2 separate regions of the Homo sapiens genome follow, and region 1 is linked to region 2. The links come from fine-mapping of genetic effects on gene expression. Tissue or cell type: thyroid. Region 2 holds a variant in brackets; the other region holds the start of a gene. All regions are shown on one strand. Distances are between the middles of the regions.

Evidence for each region. PIP is the estimated chance that this variant, and not a neighbour inherited with it, causes the effect.
Region 1: it holds the start of ODAM, and the variant in region 2 is fine-mapped to the expression of ODAM in thyroid (GTEx, PIP 0.97).

What each region holds. Positions count from the first base shown.
Region 1 is chr4:70,194,514-70,197,208 of GRCh38, reverse strand. It overlaps ODAM (odontogenic, ameloblast associated), which reads right to left and starts at 1,484. Exons shown (of 12, transcript NM_017855.4): 1 at 1,416-1,484; 2 at 615-680; 3 at 476-517. The coding sequence starts at 665.
Region 2 is chr4:70,223,831-70,226,525 of GRCh38, reverse strand. It overlaps FDCSP (follicular dendritic cell secreted protein), which reads right to left and starts at 402. Exons shown (of 5, transcript NM_152997.4): 1 at 344-402. The variant G/A (reference allele first, on the strand shown) is at 1,120.

The sequences.
Region 1 (2,695 bases), 29 kb after region 2:
ACTGCAAATATAGCACAAGTCATAGCTGGTTGCTCAATTTCTTGTTAGAAGTGGGACATTTTCTCACTAGGCTTACATTAAATTACAGTGATTAGAAGTTAGATTTAAAACAAGGTTGGGATTTAACAACCTCTCCTCTGTTGGGTATGAGATTGCACAACGTTAGCACATTCCAGTGGTTTAGTCATTTTATGTTTTTAAACACCTATATACACCTGTGTGAGGTGTTATTAGAACAAAAAGATATAAACAATATTGTATCCGCCTTTGAAGAATTAACAATCAATCAAGGGAAGCAGAATAATATTTTAGAGGTAACCTGTTATATAATCAAACATGGACATTAGAAATGTGCTTGGATATACATAAAAGCTAGTGGTGAGGAACACAGTATAAATTAAATGACGACTTCTATCTCTTCCCACTTGATTTCCATTAAAAAAAGGAGGAGATTGTTTTAATTATTTAAACTAACCTCATTGCTATTGCTGGCAGACATGAGACGCTGTGGGATAAGCTAAAAGTAAAAATGAAAAAAAAATCAGAAATAGTAAAAAGAAGGGATTGTTGAAGGTTTAACACAGTGGGACTAGTAGTGCCATAAAATCACTTACTGGGGCTGACAATGTGGCTCCCAGGAATCCAAGAAGAATTATAATTTTCATTTTCGTATGATATATCTAGAAAATAAGTTGTGATCTTTAGCTTTATAAAGACATTACTTAAAATTCATGACAAAATAATTAGTATTGTTCAATCAAAGGAATAGCTGGGTGAATTCTATAGTATTTACTTACATTTTGCAATTTAAAATTTAAAAAGTTATGTTTGTAAATTTCTGATATAACTCTTTATTTTCTCTCAGACAAGCTGTTTATAAAAACCAAGATTGTTTGCTTGTCCTTTTAGCTTGAACAAAATACTCATTTGGAGACATATGATGTGGTTGAATGCATTAAAGAACAAGATGATCTCCTCCTAGTGCTGCCCTACAAGGAGAGGAGCAGGCCCATCAGACCATGGGAGGTCATGACTAAGGCTAACCAACTAGGGACTTATTACTGCAGCAATTTTAATGTCTATGTTGAAAAGTACTTCAATAGAGATTTGACAATACCAGTCCAATACCAGATAATTTCCACTTAGTAGTCTAATAACAGAATAATATACTAGAACTAAGCAACTGAGTCAATGTTTTTGTAATTTATGGCAATAGATTATAAAACTGAACTGTGATATTGATTTATGGTGTAACCTGTTTAAGTATATTTCTCTTGTCTTCTAGATGTGAAACTTTTTTCCCTGCTTCAAATCATTGACCTAATCAAGCATTTAGGGTGAACTTGATAGTCTATCCTGCAGATTTCACTGATTTTGGTTCTTCAAACTATAAAAGCAAAGATTTGATATCTTACCTTACTCCTGGACCTAAAAAGAAAAATCTGAACCATGCGAGATCTGTGTTCTTTTCCTCTCTCAGCTCTACTGCTTGGCACTTCTCTTAAATTTTAAAACTCATCTTTAGAAAAAAAGGACCAATCATTGTTCAAAAAGGACCAGTGATTCAGTGGGTTTCAGACAATGGCTTAGCTAATAACCTCTTTCCTAATCATTTAGGTGGTATATGGATTCCCACACTTTTAGTAATGTTATTAAATTATCCCCTGAGAAATGTTTTCCTGTGATCATTTCTGGCTTCTGGTTTGGTTATGAGTAATTCTCCTAGAATAATTCTCCTAGAATAATTCTATTCTACTCTTTTATAATTCTTAAACTGGATACTCTAATTGAATAAAACTGGATACTGTAACTGAATAAAAGTTAATATCTTTAATAAAGTCAAGGATAAATGGGTGATTATTTTTACTTCAAGGGCGAAATACAGAATTGTTAGGAATCATAGGTCTGAAAAGCAAAACTTCAAAGCCTACTTAGCAGAATTCTTTGCTTCCTCAATGCTGGGCTAAGTAAATGTGGGCTAGTTTCCTTTAGATTTGACCTTGAAAACATCAGTTATTCTCCCTCTACTTACTGAATGCAGTCCTTAAAAAATTGCTAAATTTCCATGTGTCTATGAAATGTATTTGTATATGATCATGTTGCTTGAAATAAATAATTTAATAAGTATAAAGCATGATATCCTACATTTTAAAAAATAGCCGTGAATACATGTTTTTATTGAAAAATGTTTTTGTTATATATTTTAATATTCAAAATACAACTATTACTCTCTGCACATTGTTATTATTTAAATTTCCTTCATAATGGGAGTTTTGTGTTTATTTGTAGTTTTTTTGTTGTTAATATCGACTCCCCTCTAATAGTTCAGGATCACAAGTGTTTTGACAATGTATTATCAATTAATTTTTATTATGGAAGAGTTCTTTTTAGCTAACTTAATCTTGAGCAACTCATGATAGTCTTATGCAGGAAAACAAAATTATTGCCTTTTAATACATTTGTCTTTTTTGGTAGAATGAGACAGAGCTTGCATGGCTCATTAATACTAAAATAATTATACTATTTGTTATTTATCTGGTCAAAAAATCCAAGTACATAAATCATTAGTTAGAATAAAAAGACATTTTTCTTTACTAAAGAAGAAAACCCACCAGTAGGACTTTATATCTATTAGAAAGTATTAAATTGAATTACGTTTAGCCTAAAGCTGCCTCCATACATATTTTAAGTTTGA
Region 2 (2,695 bases):
CCTGATGGCCACAAATTTAAAAATAAACCTGAGGCTCTGTTGTTTCACTCTGTCCACACTCTCCCCCACCAGTGCTCCACTCCTAGAAAGATTCATTTATGGTCACTCTAAAATAAATATTTACTACAGCAGGGTGGTGATTTTAAAAAAAGTTTTGCAAACAGAATACTAAAAATGGTTTTCTAATTACTAAGTCTACAAATTCAAGCAACCATTACAATTTAGTCTCAACAATTAAAATTTTTATGATTTAAAGAAAAATATATGGAGAGATGCTATATATCTATATTTACAAAATAGATATACAATCTTAGTTTACAATGATATTTAAGACCTTTCTTACCTCAAACGTTTCAGTCAGTTCTTTCTCTCTGACGCTGTTATGAGAAATGGCAAGTGACTGGCCCTGGAATATTGTAGCTGTTTTATATACTCAAAGGTATAATGGAATGGAGAAATCTGTGGCTTAAAGGCCTCTCCCCTAGGATCAGTTATTACTCATCAACTATCTCAATATGTTGAAATTGGGGAATAACCAATGTTTAGTTTCCTAGAAACTACCAAATACCAAAATCTTTTGTGGTTTTTTTCTCCAAATTTTGTGTCTTGTATATTTGAAGTTTATCACTTTACATGTTGTTGCTCCATTGTCTACTCTCACAATTTTTTCCTTTACTTCCCACAATTTAAAATACCTCTAAGCATTTTACTGGTATTGATTATAACCTATTGCAAAGCATATTTGATAGTGCTGGAATCTTAAGAAAATAAAAAATCTAAAAATTGTTTAAGATGGGATTAAAATCTTTTGCATGATTCTTCTTTCAACTTCTTCATTTTATTATCAGGATTAGAGCTTCGTAGATGAGTGAATTGTATTTTTGGAGCACCACAGCATCTTGTTTACCTTATGGAACACTATACTCTATTTCTCAACTAAAAATTCACTTACAGCAGAAAAGGTATCATTATTAAGTGCGGGAACAGAAACTAGGGCCCACAAAACATTCAAGAATTACCTTAAATATGCGTGCATATTGTATATGCCTTTTTCAAGAGTCATAAAATTTGAGCTTTAACTAATTCGAGAGCTTTTAAGAATATTCTGTTATTGAGTTC[G/A]ATTTCTACTTCAAAAGAGGTTATATAGTCCAGATTGTAGTAGTAGTGCATCAAAGTCCCTTTTCTTCTTTTTATTTTTTCTAGAATTCAGTTCTCAAGGCAACTCAGAAAAATAATAGCAGGTAAGTTTTTTTGAGGACTTTAAGTGCTGAAGCACAAATTTAAATGCTTTATATATATAATATAATTAAATCTCCCAAACAACCACCTTAAGAGGAAAGTACTATGATCAACACCATCCCATTTTGAGACTGAGAAGCAGAGAATATTAGTAATCAGTCTGGGTATTACAGCTAGTCTCTGGCAGATATTGAATTGAGCACCAGCAATTTGGTTCTAAAACCCACATTTATAACTGGTGCCTTATACTGTCACTGTTAACAGAAGGTTAGAAAAATCAGCACAAAGCCAGAGAAACATTAAACTACTTCCTTCACCTATAACTCAACGTTTAATCTTATCTCAATGATTTAAAGAAAACTGCCTGAATCAGAAACTTAATATATTAAACCTGTTATGTTATTGTACATATTTTGACCAATTTGGGGCTCATAGTACATTTCCCCAGGGATGGGGATGACAGGTGTGTGTGTGTGTGTGTGTGTGTGTGTGTGTGTGTGTGTGTATTATCCATTTCCTTACCTAAAACCTGTCGTTCAATTTATTCTACTTCAATTTCTTTTATCTGAAATAGCTCTAATGGAGGTTGGCAATTGCCACTGAATTGTGAAAACCATAAATGATTTTCTGTCCTTGTGTTACTTCAATTCTTTTGACATTTAACTGTGACTATGCCCATCTGGAAATCTATTTTTCTCTTCCTTGGCTTCTGTAAGCCAATTTTTCATGTTCTTTTTCTTTTAATAGAAACCATAAGTCTTATTTTCTGATTCTTTTTCTCTGATTTATTATACTTGACAATTTATCTTCTTAGTCTTCACTTTCTCTTATAAAGTAATCTACTTCTGACTCCTTAAGCTATGCCTTCAGCTAAAACTCTTCTCTAATTACCCAGAATCTTGTATCCAACTGAATAAGCATCAAACCCAACCTATTCAAAACCTAGCTTACTCTTTTTCCCTCTTAATATGCTCCTCACTTTTATTTAATCTTTCAGCTGATGACCATCAATCACTCAGTTATCCAAGCAATCAATCTAAGACTCATCCTATTTTTTTCTTGTGCTTTCTCTTCCACATCAAATGGTCATTAACTTTTTCCTTCTTATAATGCTCTGGAATAAATATCTTCCATCTTTTTTGTCTTTTCCTTAGTTTAGTTTCTCATTCTTTACTAGAGTGTTACAGTAGCCTCTTATATAGAGTCCCTGTCCGCAGTATTTTTGTCTTCAAGCTATCTTCCACAGTAATGCTATAATGATCCTTAATGTGGCTTTCAAAAATTTTAAAATAAAAGCCACAGTAAAAAATGCATTATATATCATAACTCAGTCTACACACACACACACACAACTGAGACAAGGATTTAATAAAATATTTTTTACATTGTTTACATGAGGAACATACTGAAATTTTCATTTTTTTAAATTTATGTTCTAAACTAGTTTTTTACGTGT